Regions from separate parts of the Homo sapiens genome. Here all the other regions are linked to region 3. Evidence: fine-mapped expression QTL. A gene starts in region 3. Each other region holds a variant in brackets. All regions are shown on one strand. Distances are between the middles of the regions. Region 1 overlaps GXYLT2 (glucoside xylosyltransferase 2). Region 2 overlaps GXYLT2 (glucoside xylosyltransferase 2). Region 3 holds the start of GXYLT2 (glucoside xylosyltransferase 2). Region 4 overlaps GXYLT2 (glucoside xylosyltransferase 2).

Region 1 (5,151 bases), 21 kb before region 3:
CAGTGCTGGGCACAGTGACTCATGCCTGTAATCCCAGCACTTTGAGAGACTGAGGCAGGTAGATTACTTGAGGTCAGGTGTTCGAGACAAGCCTGGCCAATGTGACGAAACCCTGTCTCTACTAAAAATACAAAAATTAGCCGGGCGTGGTGGCGCAGTTTGTAGTCCCAGCTACTTGGGAGGCTGAGGCATGAGAACTTCTTGAATCCAGGAGGCGGAGAATGCTGTGAGCTAAGATCATGCCACTGCACTTCAGCCTGGGAGACAGAGCGAGACGCTGTCTCAAAAAAAAAAAAAAATATATATATATATATATATACACACACACACACACATGCACACACACACACACACACCCAACTTATATATTATATACATTTAAGTATATATAATATATATTTTTATTAGCCAGGCATGGAGGGGATACTGAGGCAGGAGGATTGCTTGAGCCCAGGCGTTCAAGGATGCAGTAAGCTATGATTGTGTCACTGCAATGGGCAACAGAGTGAGACCCTGTCTCAAAAAAATAAAAATAAAAGTAAATAAAACCACAAACATGTATGATTTTACATAGTTTCTTAGGGTTGAGAATGTACAAGCTGGGTTGTTCTGTTTCAGGGCCTCTCATGAGATTACAGGACTATGGTCATCTGAAGGCTTGAAGGGGTTGGAGGATCTTCCATCCAGCTCACACACAAGTGTTGGCAAGGGTCCTCTGTTCCTCACCATGCAGGCCTCTCCAGAGGGCTACTCTGACATGGTAGCTGGCTTCCCCCAGACCCACTGATCCGAGATGGAAGGTGAAGTGCCTTTTGTAACTTAATCTCAGAAGTGACATACCATCCCTTCTGCCCTGTCCTATTAGTTACACAGAGGACCCTGGGACAATGTAGGAGGGAAGTATACCAGCATGAGAATAACAGAAGGTGGGACCATTGGGGGCCTCCTTGGAAAGTACAACCTGCTAAACAGATATGGTTGCACGTATACATCTTCCTTCCCTTCCCTTTCGTTATTTTTTTTGAGACAGAGTCTTTCTCTGTCGCCCAGGCTAGAGTGCAATGGCACAATCTCAGCTCACTGCAACTCCGCCTCCCAGGTTTGAGCAATTCTCCTGCCTCAACCTCCTGAGTAGCTGGGACTATGGCGCACTCCACTACACCCAGCTAATTTTTGTATTTTTAGTAGAGACAGGGTTTTACTATGTTGACCAGGCTGGTCTCGAACTCCTGACCTCAGGTGATCCGCCCGCCTCAGCTTCGCAAAGTGCTGGGATTACAGGTGTGAGCCACCACGCCTGGCCCTTCCCTTCCCCTTTTAAAGTCCAAGTCTGTATTTTGTTCTGCTCCATCCCCACATCCTTGCTTTTTAGTATGCAGCAGGTACTCATTAAGTACTGGGTAGACAGATATTGTACAAGACATGAGTAGTGTTTGCACATAGCCAGCTTCCCTTTGTTCCGCCACATAGAGCACTTCTCAGTCCCCTGCAGTTGGATGGGCTTGTGACTACTAGCCAGTTAAACATGCATGGAAAGACCTGTGTCACTGCCACACTGAGGGAATGAAAGGCGGGGTTATGACTCTCTAGTCTCTTTCCTGCCATGGCATCCCACGAACTACAGATGTCAAATGCTCTGGCAAGTGTAGCTAACACATGAATAGCCTCAGTCTACTTCCGTCCCAAACCTAAGAGGCTGTACAGAATGGAGGCTCTGTCCCCTGGGAAGCAAGCTGCAGGCACATGAAAAGTGTCTGAGTTTTGGGGGAGTTGTTACTGAAGCCTGACCTGACCTATCCATATTACAGATCTACCATCTCTTTTAGCAAACCCGCTAGCCTCAAGTTGCAGATGGGGAAACTGAGGCTCAAAAAGGCCAAAAGACTAACCCAAGGTCATATAGCAAGTACATAGTGGAGGTGAGTTTTGAATTTGAGTCTTCTGTCTACTAGTTGAGGAGGTGGTATGGCATATCGATTAATTCCATGGAAGGGTGAGCCATAAACTTGACCTGAACCCTGAGGAGCAAATCACTAAAATTCTCTAAGCTCAATGATCTCAGTCTGTAAAATTGGGACATAATAATTACCTTCTTCAAAGGTTACCTTTGAAGATTATGAGGATTAAATGAGATGAACTCATAAATCATAAGCCCTTAACAAATGCTATATATTCTCATTATCATTTCCCTTATACTTCACCCTCTGAGCTAACTATATAGAGTTTCAGCC[C/T]TTTTCCTTCACCCTTCCCCTGATTCAGATCCTTTACAAGGCATTTTCCAATCAATTCCAAAGCCCCAAGACTATTTCCTCCATGGTTTCTCTTGGTAAAGATGTCAAGGTACTTTTTTTTTCCTACTCAAACATAACACATTTTCCATCTTTCTATTATTAGCCTTTCTCTGCCCAACATGCTTTTTTTGGGCATTTCTCATTAGTCCAGCTAGCCTGGTGACAGGATACAGCACTGTTGACTCAAGTTGGTAGACACAAAGCAAACCAGCTTCTCGCTCTGCCACCATTTGAGAACTTACAGCAAGAGAAAACTCTCAAGGAAAACAAAGCTTGATCTGCAAAGGTCACGTGTGTACCTACGCTGGGGGAAGAGACCTTTCCAAAGCTCTTTTTGTGTACTGGAAAAAACTCATTACCTGTTCTTCAGTATGGGAATAGTCAAATAAATGAGGACCCAGCCCCATAATAAAATACTATGTAGTCACCAAAAAGAATGAGGTAAGAATGTAGGAGTACTGACTGGGAACAATGCTGATGATACAGTTTTCAATGCAAAAAGCAAGTTCCACAACAATATACAGAGTACAATCCTGATTTTCGTAAAAGAAATACAATTTAATCAGGATACATACATATGTATGTAATTATACATATGCATGTCTATATGTACAAACATAGACAGACAACTATATATGGGGAAAAAAAAACCGGCCAGGCGCAGTGGCTCATGCCTGTAATCCCAGCACTTTGGGAGGGACAGGCAGGTGGATCATTTGAGGTCAGAAGTTCAAGACCAGCCTAGGCAACATGGTGAGACCCCCATCTCTACTAAAAATACAAAAATTAGCCAGGCATGGGGGCACAGTCCTGTAATCACAGCTACTCGGGAGGCTGAGGCAGAAGAATCGCTTGAACCCAGGAAACAGAGGGTGCAATGAGCTAAGATCGCACCACTGGACTCCAGCCTGGGCAACAGAGTGAGCCGCTGTCTCAAAAAAAAAAAAAAAAAAAAAAAAGAAAGGAAGAAAGAAAGAAAGAAAAGGAAAAAACGGGGGCTGGGCATGGTGGCACATGCCTATAACCCCAGCACTTTGGGAGGCCAAGGTGGGTAGACTGCTTAAGCCAACCTGGGCAACACGGCAAAATTCTGTCTCTATTAAAAAATACACAAAAATTAGCCAGACATGGTGGTGCATGCCTGTAGTCCCAGCTACTTGGGAGGCTAAGGCGGGAGGATCACTTGAGCCTGGAAGGTTGAGGCTGCAGTGAGCCGAGATTGCACCACTGTACTCTACCCTTGGCAATAGAGTGAGACCCTCGTCTCATTCAATCCTCACCATGTCTCTATGAGGTAGGTATAATTATCCCTGTTTTACCAAAAACTGAGGCTCAGAGTCAAGTGTTCAAAGTCACACAATTGAACATGCAGCAAAATACATTAGTTAACAGAATATGCAGTTCCTAAAATGTAGTCTGTTTGTACTTAGTAAACACTGTGCCATGATTTCTGCAAATTCACCTGCTTATCAAACTCGGGCTTCAGAGAGTCTTCAGTGAAGATGTGGAATTGGATCTTCCTGTGGCTAAAAAGCACAGCTGATTTGAGCATGACCAGCGTCTCCTCCAGCCGATTGCCACAGGCCACCACAGCCAGGTGGATCCAGAGCTCGGGTGGCAGCACAGCTTGGAAACTCCTGGGTTCTCCAGGCCTCCTAGAAAGAGGGAAAACAAGTGAAAGCTATTACTAAACTCAAAAAAGTAAAAACAACAAAAAACCGGCGAGTGAATGGTTAGAACATTTCAAAACATGATCAGGCACAATCTGTTATATTTTATAAAGTGATAAGCATTTTGACAATTCTTCCTGCTTAGAGAAAAATACCATTTATTCCCATATTTATCCTGGCAATAGCAGGATGAGTCACTGTTTGGACTGCTATAGGTGTCTGAGGCTTTTTCTGCCAGCACTCAGCTGTCTGGTGCCTGCTGGCTGCCTACTGGCCCATGTTTGGAAATAGTATTGCTAAACTTCGACAGCTGACACAAGGGCTGTGGAGCTCCCACTCGCACAGGCCGTGGAAATTAGATTTGAATGCAACTTGAACAAGAGGAGTGTGGGTTGTGGCTTTCCCATGTGAAACGAGCAACATGATATTCCCATCATCTGGATGTTTTTAGGTTGGGGTGGAATGCATGACCACTGGACCAAAGCAAGTCATGCAAGTCTGGGAGGTGAGCAAAGAAAACAACATATGCGCCCTGACGACATCTCAGGAGAGTCTTGAAGAAACAGGTGTTAATCCTGACCGTCTCGCCAATACTGGTGAGGTGGTGGGTATGAAATTCATCTTCCAGTATGAAATTCACATTAATGAGAAACAGGCAGGAGAGGGGGTAGGTTAATCTGAAAATGATCAAGGTATCAAATATTGAGTCAACAGCTGACAGAGGGATAGGGTCCAAGGGTCCAGAATCATCATCCAGCTATTTCCTAGTAATAAAAGATTTGTTCCAGACGAAGGGATGCAGCCAAGCCTCAAACACACCACTGAGAAACATTTGCAGTCAAGTTGGAAGAAGTTGGCCTGGAAAAGGTGCCCTGAGACAAATGAAACTAATTTACTTGCACAAAAGATTTGGAGACCAGGGGAACTTGGATGTCAAATGCTACCTTCCTTCCAAAAACTTCGAGTTCAATCAGCTTGCTGCTCCATTATTCACTGCATGGTTGAATAATGGCAGTCTTGCTCCAGATTTCTTTCACCAGGAGGAAAGTTGAAGATGTGGGTGGAGCATTTTGGAAAGGCTCCCAGTTTGATTACTTATGAGCATGCTTAGTAGAAGCACAGCCTCATGGCTCAGCTAAGACCAGATGCGGAGAGTTACTTGGATTCCATTTACTTCGGGGATCACAGGA
Region 2 (5,128 bases), 86 kb before region 3:
TCAGAAGGAAAGTATTACTCTAAAATTTTAGATTTAAATTTGTTACTACTATAATAATGCTGCATACCAAAACTGATTGACATCTAAACATTTCTGTGTAGTGCTGAGATTTTCATATCTATTTTTTTTTCAGGGTAAGACTGACTTTTTTTTGCTAATATTGCGCCCATGATATCTTATTGGATTCTAATATATATAAGGATATCATATTTACATCAACAAGATAATATTTTTCTTTTTATACTTCCAGATCATTGTCTCTATATAACAAAAAGTATTTAATATTTTAATTTTCAAAAATGTCTCTGTAAATAAGATACATCTTACACAGACTGTATGTCTTACAGAATAGCAATTATATTCAATATGTTTATTTCTTTGTGTTACAATTTCCTTGTTTGCCTTATAGAGATGATTCAGGACCCTACCAAATCCACTAGGCTGTTGCAAATATCAAGATCATCTATGCAATAGTCATTTGAGAAAAATAAAGCATTATGCAAAATATTGCTATGCTGATACCAACTATATGAGCAACTAGGGATTAAGCCAGATCCCCGTGGGGAACAGAATATTCAACTTCCTCCTTGCAGTGAGGTGATAAAACCTGTATGGACCAGCTAGGTAACCCTAGGGGGAAAGAAATTGTTTAAAGAGACCTTTCTAAGGCTGGTAGGAAGTTGAATTTTCTTACCAATAGAAGCAGCTGAACTATTTGTTTTTTACACATTAAATTTGAAGTTGGTCTCTGATTTCCACCCATTGCCCAAGAGTTTAAGAAAGAGAGATGACCACAGCTACTGATGATTAACAGATCAAATGTTTTTGTCTGTGGTAAACACAAACATTCCTGAATTTCCTCTCAGAAGCTATTGTTGCATAGAAATGTATTATGATTTAGTCCTCCACAAATCAAAGTAATTTTTTTCTTTAGAAATACTCCCAGATTGGCTGAGTGCAGTGGCTCACACTTGTAATCCCAGCACTTTGGGAGGCTGAGGCAGGCAGATCACTTGAGGTCTGGAGATCAAGACCAGCCTGGCCAACATGGTAAAACCGTGTCTCTACTAAAAATACAAAAATTAGCCGGGTGTGGTGGCACACACTTGTAATCCCAGCTACTGGGGAGGCTGAGGCATGAGAATCACTTGAACCCAGGAGGTGGAAGCTGCAGTGAGCCGAGATCCTGCCACTGCATTCTAGCCTGGGCTACAGAGTGAGATTCCGTCTCAAAAAAAAAAAAAAAAAAAAAAAGAAAGAAAGAAAAAGAAGAAATACCCCCAGATACATGCTTCATCCTTTAACACTACCCAAGTATCTGAATGATTCTCTCAGATGTATTTTAAATAAAATTCTGTACACATAATCATCTCATCTAATATTTTAGTCTCCCACATAAAAATCTCAGCAAAAAGGCCAGCTTTTACTGAGATTACCTGTTTTAGATGTGTGTTAGAGTGGAAAATGCAAAAGTAGAGAAAAAAGGTTGTAAGGAACTGCTTTAAAATGGAAACAATCTTTTCCACTGGTCAATAGGATTATGGCTAATCTAATCTTGATGTTGAGCCCTTGACCCATATGCTCTACAAGTGTGTCTCTCTGTTTCAAAAGTGTGTATTACTTTTATAACACGGGTGTGGGGGAGTCAGTTGCATAGAAAGAGTCTCAGGAATGCTAGATCAATATAACACCTCAGGTGCCACTGAAATGGTCTCAGACGTTTAGGAATTAGAAGGCTCACAAAAGCTATTTTCACAGCTAGCTCAACCTGCTTAAACAATGTTAAATGAGTAATAGTCTTTTTTTTTTTTCCTTAGAGATAAATAGCATTTTAGAAAAAAAAATAAGGAAAAGCATATTCCCTTTTGGGGGCAACTGATTTGGCAAAATTTAACGAGGTTTTTAAAACTCAACAGTCATGGAGCACCATTAAATATTCACACAAAAAGACCCAGGCAGCTTAGAGATTAGTATTTCCTTG[G/T]TCACAAGACACCTAATTGACTTGCAACAAGACAAAATATTCAGTGCATCTGGTTGGGGCCAACATGGATGATGACGTGTTTCTCATAAGCCCTTTTCATTGTTTTCTCAATTTGCTTCAGAAAAACTTGCGGGATTCGTCCACATAAAGTGTGCACAGTCTCCAAAAACTTCAGCTGAAGGGGGTAATACATGGATTGAAAGAGATTGTCTTGAAAGGGAAACTGAAAGATGACAAAAAAAAAGTTTATTTAGTAACGGAAATGCCATTTTAAATGCAGATCATTTTTACTAAGAAATGACACAGGAATTACGATAAGCCCACAGGCACAGGTTTGGACAAGTGAAAAGACCTTTGAGGATCTAACTTAAAATCCTGTCTCAGCTGTGCAACCCCAGGTAATCATTTAAACTCTCCGAACCTCAGTTTCTTTACCTCTTTAAAAAGAAAAAGGCTAGGCATGGTGGCTTACACCTGTAACCCCAGCACTTTGAGAGGCCGAGGTGGGAGGACCACTTGAGCCCAGGAGTTTGAGACCAGCCTGAGCAACATGGCAAGACCCCATCTCATTAAAAAAGAATAGTAATAAAATTAAAAAAAAATTTGGGTCCTTAAGGGTCTTACAATCTAAAAATGATGCATGTCTCTAAGGACAGGAAAGTCCATATATCATAGCATGTTTACGCTGAGTAGAAGGAAGGCTCAAGATACTCACTTGAAATCTACTACAACAAAACAATGAATTCTTCATCTTTTTTGACCTTAATGAAGAAACTTTAGGGTATGTCTATGGTAATCTCGTGAAGTTCAGGGTTTAACAATTACTAGTAAAATTTATTGGCAATAAACCAGATTTTAATAATTCAGGTACCAAATATTAGTGGTTGTTTATTTCCCTCTTAATATTGGGCTTTTGAGATCATCACTGCCATTTTTTAAAATTCTTTTGTTTTCTTCATGGAATACGTCTATGAGCAGTATAACCCAAAATAAATCTTTCAGACCACTTAGTTACGCACATGTATCAAAGTTTTATTACAATCTTGTTGAAAGGGAAAAGTCTGGTAGTAGATCAAGTCAAAGATCCACTCTTGGTCAGGACATTTTATATGGAAAGACTAGTGAGAAATGAAAGAAGAATGGTTAAAGATCAGTACACTCTTGCCTAACAGGAGAGGTGGGTGTCTGGTTTCCTAGAACAAATGTTAATCCTTTAAAATTAATCAGAAATACTGCTTACACAGGTTTATCAGAGATGCCAGTTTCTTCTCGGAAGGAGATTATGCATTATGTAATGCAAGAAGGTTCTCTCCCAGACCAGGTTGGTTTGGGATACTTTTTCTTTAATCATGAAATTTAAATCATTGATAAACCCCTTGAAGCCAGTCCTGAATCTGTCCTTTTCACCACTGTAGCTCCAGTAATGGGAACAGGATAGGTCAAAACCTTGGAATCACCCTCAATTCCTCTCTTTCCCCCCACAACCCTCATCCAATTCATCAGCAAGTCCTGTAAACTCTATCTCAACAGCATATCCCAAATATGGCGACTTCTTCCCATTTCCTGCCACCACGCAAGCCCATGCTGGCCCCATTGCTCACCCAGGTGGCTGCGATTAGTCTCACAAATAAATAGCCTTTGTGTTTTCACTCTTGCATCCCTTCCACCACATTACCAAGGTGATATTTCTAAATCATAAATCAGAGCCTATCACTTTCCCGAAGGGGCTTTCCACTGCCATTAGAATGAGATTCCAACTCCTCCCTTGTTCTAAAGGTTCAAGGTGACCTGGAAACTCTCCCCTCTCAGTTCCTCCTCTCTCCTCTTATCTGGCCATTCCTGTCTTTCCAGCACACCAAATTCATTCCTGCCTCCGGGACTTTCCCCTGGTCATTCCTTCTGTTTCACGGGATTTTCCCCAGATTTCCCCTGGGCTGCCTCCATCTGATAAGTCTAGGACTTACAAGCAGCCTCCCTGGTGCCCCTCCCCCAGCTGGTAGAACACTCCTCTCCAGCCCAGGACTTTGGACCCATCAGCCCACTCTTTTTACACCTTTTGAACTCCTTTCACCTTTCACTATCTCAGAGGATTTTTTTTTCTTTTGAGATAGGGTCTTGCTGTGTCACCCAGGCTGGAGTACAGAGGGGCAATCACGGCTCACTGCAGCCTTGAACTCCTGGGCTCAAGTGATCCTCCATCTCAGCCTCACAATTAGCTGGGACCACAGGCACTTGCCATGACGCCCAGTTGTTACTATTTTTTTTCCTAAAGAGGCAAAGTCTTGCTCTGGCTGGAGTACAGTGGGGCCATCCTAGCTCACTGTAGCCTTGGCCTCCTAAGCTCAAGAGATCTTCCCACCCCAGCCCCAACCCCTCCCCACCCAGTAGCTGGGACTACCTGCATGTGCCACCAGGCTAATTTTTTTTTTTTTTTTTTAATTTTTGTAGAGACGCATCTCACTATGTCGCCCAGGCTGAATTTTTCTTTCTTTTTCTCAATCAGTATTGTCTGGCTTCCCCCACCAGAATATATGCTTCTTTTTTTTTTTTTTTTTTTCCGAGACAGAGTCTTGCTCTGTCACCCAGGCTGGACTGCAGTGGTGCGATCTTGGCTCACTGCAACTTCCACTTCCTGGGTTCAAGAAATTCTCCTGCCTCAGCCTCCTGAGTAGCTGGGATTACAGGTGCCTGCCACCACGCCCGGCTGATTTCTGTATTTTTAGTAGAGATGGGGTTTCACCATGTTGGCCAGGCTGGTCTCGAACTCATGACCTCAGGTGATCCACCTGCCTCGGTCTCCCAAAGTGCTGGGAGGTGTGACCCACTGCGCCCAGCTCAGAATATATGCTTCTTAAAGACTAGGGCTTTGTTCATCTTATTACCTTCCAAATTCCTAGAAACTAGAATTGTTCCTGCATAAAATAGATGCTTCATAAGTGACTGTCAAGAGAATTACTGCAAAAATGTCTATATGATAGATGCCTTCTTGTGGGGAGGCTGCACTGCCCTTTCACACAAACACGTACACACAAACACACAGGTTAGGATGTCTATGAGCACCTGAAACAGAGAGAGAAATAGAGAGAAAGAGAGAGAATATTTTCAGAGACAGATGAAGGGAGAAAAAGAAAAAGGTATATAGAGAGA
Region 3 (5,151 bases):
CTTCTGTTGCCATTTCTGTGGAGGTAGCAAGAGAAACAATAAATAAGTCCCAGAAAATGTCAACTGTTTATGCATTTGAGCCTGAGACTTCCTGTGGCTTTTGTTTTTTACTCCTTCCCCAGTTTTAAAATTTTGTTCTGTATTCCTATGGTGTTGGCCATAATTTCCACGATAATCTAAGAGATATGTTCAAAAGAAAAATGGCTTCAAGGGTACTGTTACTCCTGGAAATAGAAACACTCCTTCCCTAAAACATCCATTTGGATTCTGTTCATGATCTCCTCCTAGTCAGAGACACTTTGTTCAGATAGACACAAAAAGATGCTGCGCCACTGTTCTCGACACCTTGAAGAATGAGACAGATCCAAAAATCTACAGTGTTTCTTTAAAAGACATCTCAGTAAAATTACGAATTGCAGGCAAGTCTATGGCCTGACATCAGCATAGCAGGTAAGTGCTCAACCTGAGCCCACACTGCCTGGATCTTTATCCTTCTCTACCAGGTTACCTGTGAACCTTGGACAAACTGCTAACCCTTGTGCAATACTTTCCTCATCTGAAAAGTGGGGATACCATTGGTGCTTACTTTGCAGAGCAGGTTCTCAAACTTTGTTGTGCATGAGAAACAATGGGAGGGACGTGTTAAAACACGGTTGCTGACCCCCCAAAGCTTCTGATTCTGTAGGGTTGGGGTGGGGCCCAGGAATCTGCATTTCTAACAAGTTCCCAGATGATGCCTGTGCCACTGGTCTGAAGTCCACACTTTGAGAACCACTGTCAAAGGGTTATGGTTGGGCCCGGCGCGGTGGCTCACGCCTGTAATCCTAGCACTTTGGGAAAGGCTGAGGCAGATGGATCACTGGGCTCAGGAGTTCCTGGCCAATATGGTGAAACCCCGTCTCTCTACTAAAAATACAAAAATCAGCTGGGCATGGTGGCACACGCCTGTTTGCCAGCTACCTGGCAGGCTGAGGCACAAGAATCACTTGAATCTGGGAGGCCTGAACCCGGGAGGCAGCGGTTGCAGTGAGCAGAGATCGCAGCACGGCACTCCAGCCTGGGCGACAGAGGAAGACTTTGTCACAAAAAAAAAAAAAAAACAAAAAAAAAACCAAAAGAAAAACAGCGGTGGGGGGGAAGGTTATGGTGTGGATTATGTAGTTGTATATGTTAAGTGTTAACTGTGACTATTTGTATGTACTGCGGTTAGCACTGTCCCTGGCAATAGGTTAGCGATGTTAAGGATGACAGTTATTATTATCTTACCAGTTGTCCCATCAAACTTAGCAATCATATTAAACTTGCAGTTAAACCCTAATTAATCTCTTACAAGAAACTCCAGTATAGAAGAGGGGAAATCCTATTAATTTCCTAACAAAGATATCCTTAAAGACTGTATACATCCAGAAAGGGCTGTAAAGTGTTATAAGTACTTTAAAGCGACAGATTGTTGGGGTTTTTTCCCCCTAAAACTTGTCAGTACCCATTTGTACTGAGACAGAAGGGAAACAAAGGCTGACACAGCTACTTCTTGAGGTTTCGTGTCTTTTAGTTACAGTAAAGGCACCAAAGAGATTTAGTCATTATGGTCAAAAATAATTTTTCAACTCCTTTCAGGTTGAAATTAAGGAGCCCAGCAAACAAGGACGTTGCAATGGCAGTTAGAAACAACAGTTTTGAAAGGGCAGATGAAACAGACTCGCTACAAGACAAGGGGATTGTTGAAAAGCCCTCCACAACAAAGGAAATGAACTCAAATCCCTAACCTGCGGGGCGTTCCAGCAACCCTGAGGCCAAAAATAAAGCTCTCTGATGAAAAGCCTCCGCGTGTTAGGCTTTGTGTAGGGAAAGAGAGTATCAAACAGAAGGTCGAAGGTTAAGTTGTTTTTCTTGTAGGAGGACCCTTTGACCACACTCGAGCCTGAAACAGAATGAGGATCTGGAAACCCCCACTCTGTCTTTTCTGTGCCACGCATCAGTCCTTTCAAGGAGAAAACTTCTTTTTAATAAACTTAGGTCAAGTGTCCCTTCTGTTCTAAGCATGGGGGTACTCGAGGTTAAATGAGAGGCTGCCAGTCCTTGGTAAACATCTAACTTTTCCAACTCAACCATATCTAAGGTTTCGGTAAAATTCTCCAGTGAAACATGAGAATTAGATAAAACATTCTTGCACCGTGATGGCTTTTGACAAATTAAACAAAGGGTGCATGTTTGCAAGAGTGCAAAAATACGCCTTGCCTTGACAGTTAAAAAATGTAATGTACGAAACCACTTTCCTTGACACTTCAAAAAATGTACGTGATTATCAACACCGAGCTGTTAGGGGGACTCCACCAAGGTGGGTCTTCTTTTCTATCGGGTTAAGAAACAGAAGTGGGCAGCCCGTGGGTGAAACTTGGAAATCTGTCTCTCCAGCGCAAAGCCTCCCTTGGACTTGGCACGGGTGTAGGGAGCGAGACACGGGTCCGCAGATGGGATTCTGGGGTTGCCACGACTCACCTCGCCAACTTCTCCAGTCTCGCAGCGCCCCGGCGGCCCGCTCGGGGGCGCGGACGCGGGGGCCGGCGCCTCCGAACTCCCGGGCTGGCCCCGGGGAGGGCGCCCGGCCCCGGCCAGCGCGCGGGGACAGGCGCGGGGTGGCGCTGCGGGGCGGACGCGGGGCGCGCGGGCAGCGCTGGGGGCTCAGCGCGGCCAGCGCGCAGGGACAGCAGCGCCAGCAGCAGCGCGGCCAGCGCGAGCAAGAGCAGCGCCGCCGCCTTGCTGCGGAGCTTCATGGTGCGGCGCGGCGGCGGCGGCGGCCCCCAGGCGGCTCGGCCCCTCTGCGCATCGCGGCGGCGGCAGGATGAGTGCAGCAGCGCGCGGCGGTCGCCTCCTCCGCCCGCCCGCCGGGGACTGGGGTCGTGGCGGCCGGCGGGCGGCCGGCGGCGGCGGCGACGGCGAAGGAGGAGGAGAGAGAGGAGAGGAGGGGGAGGCGGTGAGAGCTGGGTTACAGGAGGAGCAGCCTGCGCCTACCGTACTGTGTGGAGTAGCCGCCCCTCCGCCCGCCCGCAGCCAGGCTCTCGGGCTTCTGGTAGCTCAGACTCAAAACCACTTCATTCATTCATTCGTTCGTTCGTTCGTTTACTTCCCCATTCACTCACACACCCATGCCATCCACTGTTCCCGCTGATTCTCTCATACCATGATTCACTTATTTGTTGATGTATTCCATGTGCTTCCTCCTTATTTATTTTATCCATCTATCCACACATTTGTGCACTTATCCACACATCCTTTCAGGCAGGAACATCTCTGTCCTGTTTGCCCAGTGCAGGGATCTGCGGGTGGTGGTGCCCAATAAATATCTGTTGAATAAACCCCTATTGCCGCCTCTGTCTTGCCACCTCCCTTTTTCCTGGAGGAGGACATATTCAACAAGGACACATGCAAAATAAGGCAAAGCGAGTAAAAGTAACACGTGATTAGTAGTTGGGGTTTCAGACTCAAAACACCAAAGTAGAACTTGGGACAGCTAGACTGGACCGAACCGATCCATGTAGTCTGAAGAAATTAGAGAATGAATTTCAAAGTTTGGATTTGAAATCTGACACTGTGCTTAACTGGCTTGGTGATCCTGAGGAAGCTGCACAACTTTCTTAAGCCTTAACTTCCTTACGTGCAAAATGGGAATGACAATACTGCTCACTACAGAGGCGTTTTGTGAGCATTAAATTAAATAATGCCTTCAAAGAAACTAGCACAGTGCCTGGCTCACAGTCGGTGCCCAATAAAAGTTCTGTAATGATTAGTTCAATAAAACATAGCTTATAATATACACATAAACACACATTTTATTTTCTTTCTGGCACAGATTTGAGATAGAGTAATAATTTCACAACACAATGTAAGAATGGCTTCTTTGGAGACTTTAACAGCTGCAATCGCCAGATGAAGGTCGTAATTTCCAGACGATTCTTCCAGGGGATCCCCAGTTACAAATCTGAAACATTAGGACACATCCTCTTATGACTCACGGTGAACTGACAGCCAGGACTCCATTAACTCTCTTTTCAGCACACCACAGAACAAAGAACACTAGTTAAGTTATAACAACGTCCCTGAGTTTTTCAGTTTTTTTTTTTTTTTTTTTTTTGGATCACTCTGTAGCCCAGGCAGGAGTGCAATGGTGCAATCTTAACTCACCGCAGCCTCCGCCTCCCGGGTTCAAGCCATTCTCCTGCCTCAGCCTCCCAAGTAGCTGGGATTACAGGCTGCGCCACCACACCCGGCTGATTTTTGTATATTTAGTAGAGACGGGGTTTCACCACGTTGGCCAGGCTGGTCTTGAACACCTGACCTCAAGTGATCCGCCCGTCTCGTTCTTCCAAAGTGCTGGGATTACAGGCATGAGCCACCGCGCCCAGCCCGTCCCTGAGTTTCTACAAGATTCCATGTTGCTTTATAAATAATCTAAAATTTAGTTATATTCTGAATTATTCTCATATTAGCATTTTATTTTAATTCCTTGAGAACCCATTGTATTAAAAGTTCTAGAGATGAGAATATTTAGTAATTTGGAAGCTCTTGCCAAGCAGACATCTAGGAAATGGCAGGGTGCAAGTTCAGTGTGGGGGACATGTTGTAGGTGAGTAAGCGCAAAGAATCCATTAGTTCTCAAAGATGAGGGAGAAGGTTCCATCCTACCAGGAAGCATCTGGAATTGTGGGAAGGCTGACAGGTTCTACTAGCATATGCAAAACCTCCTGCAATGCTCAGGACATACCAACAACGAAAACTATCCTGGCCCAATGTGGGACCCTGTTGAGAAACACTAGGCCAGGCTAAGGCATGATGTTTAGATCTTTCAGGTTTAGAAATGGCCACCACTCTGTTGACATGTGGCCCAGAGAAGCAGGCATTCCCAACTCTGTCTTGCCCCCTCCCTTCTACCTCTAGGAGGACAGATGCAACAAGGATAAACAAAGGCAGAGTGAGTCAAAGTAACACTTGATTAGTAGCCAGGGTTTTAGCCTCAAACACCAAAGAATCATGGACCAAAGAGAGGACTCAGTTTTCTTGAACCTCACTGAAGCCAAAAAAAAAAGCCTAATCTGCCTCCTTCCACTGAGTCCAAACTCAACTTTTGGATTTGTTTGGATTGCTCTGATTGGT
Region 4 (5,151 bases), 43 kb before region 3:
AAAATTAGCCTGGCATGGTGGTGCACACCTGCAGTCCCAGCTACTCCAGAGGCTGAGATGGAAGGATCACTTGAACCCAGGAGGAGGTTGAGGCTTCAATAAGCTGTGATCACACCACTACACTCTAGCCTGGGTGACAGAGCAAGACCCTGTCTCAAAAAAAAAAAAAAAAAAAGAATAAAATTAAAATTAACTATCAATTTTTGTATAGTTTTAGGAAAGAATGAATACAAATACAAATAATTTCCTTGCCATCTTTAATCCAACACAAGTCCAGCTGGCTAAGCTCCTCTTTCATTCTGAGAACTCCCAACATCCTTTCCTTTCTTTATTATTATTATTCTTAATTTTTGAGACAGGATCTCACTCTGTTGCCCGAGTTGGAGTGCAGTGGGGCCATCACAGCTCATCTGCAGCCTCGATCTCCTGGAGCTCAAGTGATCCTCCAAGCTCGGCCCCCCCAGGCTGCTGGGACTACAGACCTGTGCCACCACACCCGGTTAATTCTTTGTAGAGACAGGGTGTCACTTTGTTGCTCAGGCTGGTCTTGAACTCCTGGGCTCAAGTCATCTTCCCATCTTGGCCTTCTAAAGTGTTGGGATTACAGGTACGAGCCACTGTGTCCAGCCCCAACATCCTTTCAATCAAATTCTCTTCTGATTAACTCAGCCTGAATCAATTATGATCACGTTCATTTATTTTTCTTTTTTCTTAATATTTGTACTTACTATAGCCAACATCATATATGATCACTTTCAACCAAAGAACTACGTTACAGTAAGTAATCAACATATATTATTGTGATTCTTACACTAGGCTTCGTAAGAAATATAATGACTCTTCAGTTGTAGAACTATTGCATCTATTAGCATTTACTAGCAACTACTGCAACTATTAGCATCTAATACTATGATGCTAATTATGCTGGAGTCAAAAAGACAATTCCCTACAATGTGACTGATGTTTTAATAGGAGCGTTACCTGCTGGGACATGTTTACAATTGTTCATGGTTAGTTATGGCTTGGCCGACTGGGTCAAAAAAAATGATGTTGCTATTAATCAAGATAAAGTCCTTTTCGGAAAGAGAATTAACTGTCTCAGTAGTTTCATGCTACATATCAGTCCTAAAAAAATAGGTATAATAATAAAAATAGTATCTAACACTTTCTATGTGCCAGGCATTGTTTCCAAGGGTGTTAAATGTATTCACTAATTTGAATTTTCACAACACTATGAGATAGGCAATATTATTATTCTCTTTTTACAGATGAGTAAATGGAGGCAAGGAAAGTTGAAATTATTTCTTCTGGTTACAAAGTGGTAAGTGGTAGAAACAAGATTTAAATGTATTTGGGCTGCTTCCAGAGCCTGGGGTCTTAACAACTATACCATACTGTCTCTATATAATAATATCTCAAATTAATTTGTCTCCATTAAATGCTTCCTAACACTGTGGCTATTACATTTTCTAAAGGCCACACTTTGTATATTATCTCATATTCCTCATCTTAACAAAGTAACTGGACCTCTCTGAAGGCCTGAGAAGAAATGTTATATAACTATTCATTGTTAAGCCAAACAGATGTTTATTGTTTGCCCTCCCCTTCATATCTTTCTCCATCTCCTGACAAGAGCCACTCTCTTGTGGTAAAACCCAATCCATGTGGCTTAAATGTTGTTGGCCCCTGTGGCCCATGGAGGAGAATGTGATTCAAGTCAAGCCAATCTGAGTATCCTGTCTTCCTGGACATAATGATTGGTTCAGAAATAAGCATGACTTTGGATTAAACAATGGTTTCTTAGATATGACACCAAAAGTACAACAAAAATGGAAATAGATAACTTTGAATTAAACAAAATTAAATACTTTTGTGTTGCCAATGACACTATTAAAGTGGGCCACGTACGGTGGCTCATGTCTGTAATCCCAGCACTTTGGGAGGCTGAGGCAGGTGGATCAACTGAGGTTAGGAGTTTGAGACCAGCCTGGCCAACATGGTGAAACCCCATCTCTACTAAAAATACACACAAAAAATTAGCTGGGCGTGGTGGTGGGCACCTGTAATCACAGCTACTGGGGAGGCTGAGGCAAGAGAATTGCTTGAACCCAGAAGGCGGAGGTTGGTGTGAGCCAAGATCGTGCCATTGCACTCCAGAAAACTCCATCTCAAAAAAAAAAAAAAAGTTAAAAGACAATCCACAGAATTCAAATTTGTCCATTTCATCTAAATTACCTAATTGATTGAAATACAATTATTCATAGTATTGCTTTATAATCCTTTTATTTTGGTAATGTTGGTAGTTATGTTCCCTCTTTCCTTCCTGATTTTAGTAGTTTGAGTCTTCCCTTGTTTTCTAGCTCAGTCTACCTAAAGGTTTGTCAATTTTGTTGATCTTTTCAAAGTACCAATTTTTAGTTTTGGTGTTACTCCTCTACTGTTTTTTCTCTTCTCTGTATCATTAATTTTCAGTTGAATCTTTATTATTTCCATCCTTCTGCTTGCTTGGATTTAGTTTGCTCTTCTGAGGTGCTGTAAAGTGGAAGGTTAGGCTATTGACTTGAGGCCTTTCCTCATTTGTACTGCTGAAGTTTATAAATTTCCCTCTAAACCCTGTGTTAGGTGTCTGCCATAAGTACTGGTATGTTGTATCTTCATTTTCATTGTAGTTTCCCTTGTAGTTTCTTCTTAAAGCAATTGGCTATTTAGAAAGAAGTATGTTACTTAGGCCGGGCGC[G/A]GTGGCTCACGCCTGTAATCCTAGCACTTTGAGAGGCCGAGGCAGGTGAATCACGAGGTCAGGAGATCGAGACCATCCTGGCTAACATGGTGAAACCCCGTCTCTACTAAAAATACAAAAAATTAGCCATGTGTGGTGACGGGCACCTGTAGTCCCAGCTACTCGGCAAGCTGAGGCAGGAGAATGGGGGGTGAACCTGGGAGGCGGAGCTTGCAGTGAGCGGAGATGGAGCCACTGCACTCCAGCCTGGGGACAGTGCAAGACTCCGTCTCAAAAAAAAAATAGAAAATAAAATAAAAAAATAAAGAAGTATGTTACTTAATTTCTACATTTTTGTTAACTTCCCAAATTTCTTTCTGTTATTGACTTCTAATTCCATTCCACTGTGGTCAGAGAACATACATTGTATAACTTCAATCCTTTTATGCTTTTTACAGCTTCTTTTATGGTACAACATATGGTCCATTCTGGAGAAAGTTTCATGTGCACTCACAAGAACGTATTCTACTGGTGTTGGGTGGAGTGTCCTAAAGAAGTCGGTTGGTTCAGCTGGTTTATGGTGTTGTTCTTCTATTTCCGTGTTGACATTCAGCCTAGTTGTTCAATCCATTATTGAAAGTAAGGCAGCTGGGTGCAGTGGCTCATGCCTGTAATCCTAGCACTTTGGGAGGCTGAGGCAGGTGGATCACTTGAGCCCAGGGGTTCGAGACCAGCCTGGGCAACAGGGTGAAACCCCATCTCTACAAAAAGTATGAAAATTAGTTGGGCTTGGTGGTGCACACCTGTAGTCCCAGCTACTTGAGAGGCTGAGGTGGGAGGATCACCTGAGCCTGGGAGGTCAAGGCTGCAGTGAGCCATGATCATACCACTGTACTCTAGCCTGGGTGACAGAGTGAAACCCTGTGTCAAAAAAAAAAAAAAAAAAAGAAGAAGAAGAAAAAGAAAAAGAAAAGAGGGGCACTCATATCTCCTACTACTGTTGATGAATTGCTTATTTATATCTTTTTTTTTTTTTTGAGACAGGGTTTCACTCCTGTTACCCAGGCTGGAGTGCAGTGGCATGATCTTGGCTCACTGCAATCTCCGCCTCCTGGGCTCAAGCAATTCTCCTGCCTCAGTCTCCTGAGTAGCTGGGACTATAGGCACATGCCACCACGCCCAGCTAATTTTTGTGTTTTTAGGAGAGATGAGGTTTCACCATGTTGGCCAGGCTGGTCTTGAACTCCTGAGCTCAAGTGATCTGCCCGCATCAGCTAGAATTACAGGCATGAACACCTCCTATAGAGAGCACACAGTTCGACTGTATTCTTTATCAACTATAACTGCAACTCTGTTTTTTTTTTTGTTTTTTTGAGATGGAGTTTCGCCCTTTTTGCCCAAGCTAGAGTGCAATGACGCAATCTCAACTCACTGCACCCTCTGCTTCCTGGGTTCAAGTGATTCTCCTGGCTCACCCTCTCGAGTAGCTGGGATTACAGGTGCACGCCACCACGCCCAGCTAATTTTGTATTTTTAGTAGAGACACCATTTCACCATGTTGGCCAGGCTGGTTTTGAACTTCTGACCTCAGGTGATCCACCTGCCTTGGCCTCCCAAAGTGCTGGGATTACAGGCATGAGCCACTGCAGCGGGCCTGCAACTCTGTGTTTTTATTTGATTGTCGAATCCATTCACATTCAATGCTATTATTTATATAGTCGAATTTATGTCTGCCATTTTACTATTTGTTTTCTATATGTCTAATATTTTTGTTGTTCCTCTATTCTTTCTTTTCTGCTTTATTTTGCATTAAGTGAATATTTTCTTTTTTCTGGATGTTGTGGTGCAACTTATAGAAAAAGTAAAGGAAACCCCAACATGCATGCACTGCCTTGGTGACCAGGGAAGTCACCCCATGGCTATGGGGAAATTAGCCTGAGGCTTAGCTTTCGTTATCACTGTCTCCCAGCGTGTGCTTGTCAAAGAGATATTCTGCCGAGCCAGATTCGGGTGCTCCCATCTTGCACAAGTTGGTCACGTGGCCACCCAATTCTTTGATGGCTTTCACCTGCTCATTCAGGTAATGTGTCTCAATGAAGTCACACAAATGGGGGTCATTTTTGTCACTGGCCAGTTTGTGCAGTTCCAGTAGTGACTGACTCATATTTTTTTTTCCCCAAATGTAATGCACACTCCATCGCATTCAGCCCGCTCTCCCAGTCGTCACAGTCTGGTTTCTTGATATCCTGAAGGAAGATTCGGCCACCTCGTTGGTTCTGCAACGTCATCAGTTTCTCGGCATGTTCCCTCTCCTCATGAGATTGGTGAAGAAAGTATTTGGCAAAGTTCTTCAAAGCCACATCATCGCGGTCAAAGTAGTAAGACATGGACAGGTAAACGTAGGAGGCGTAGAGCTCCAGGTTGATCTAGCGGTT

What was found. PIP is the estimated chance that this variant, and not a neighbour inherited with it, causes the effect.
Region 1: its variant is fine-mapped to the expression of GXYLT2 in tibial artery (GTEx, PIP 0.92).
Region 2: its variant is fine-mapped to the expression of GXYLT2 in caudate (GTEx, PIP above 0.99). The same link has a PIP of 0.9 or more in breast, left ventricle, nucleus accumbens, putamen, subcutaneous fat and thyroid.
Region 4: its variant is fine-mapped to the expression of GXYLT2 in aorta (GTEx, PIP 0.94).

The regions. Positions count from the first base shown.
Region 1 is chr3:72,907,162-72,912,312 of GRCh38, reverse strand. It overlaps GXYLT2 (glucoside xylosyltransferase 2), which reads right to left. Exons shown (of 7, transcript NM_001080393.2): 2 at 3,754-3,946. Among named protein-coding and RNA genes, the nearest start is that of GXYLT2, 22 kb to the right of the region's middle. The variant C/T (reference allele first, on the strand shown) is at 2,232.
Region 2 is chr3:72,972,053-72,977,180 of GRCh38, reverse strand. GXYLT2 (glucoside xylosyltransferase 2) reads right to left here. Exons shown (of 7, transcript NM_001080393.2): 7 at 266-2,204. The coding sequence ends at 2,022. Among named protein-coding and RNA genes, the nearest start is that of PPP4R2, 22 kb to the left of the region's middle. The variant G/T (reference allele first, on the strand shown) is at 1,982.
Region 3 is chr3:72,885,857-72,891,007 of GRCh38, reverse strand. It overlaps GXYLT2 (glucoside xylosyltransferase 2), which reads right to left and starts at 2,962. Exons shown (of 7, transcript NM_001080393.2): 1 at 2,500-2,962. The coding sequence starts at 2,774. RefSeq lists silencers at 2,463-2,592, 2,693-2,922.
Region 4 is chr3:72,929,105-72,934,255 of GRCh38, reverse strand. All of the region lies in intron 3 of GXYLT2 (glucoside xylosyltransferase 2), which reads right to left. It also overlaps the pseudogene FTH1P23. Among named protein-coding and RNA genes, the nearest start is that of GXYLT2, 44 kb to the right of the region's middle. The variant G/A (reference allele first, on the strand shown) is at 2,738.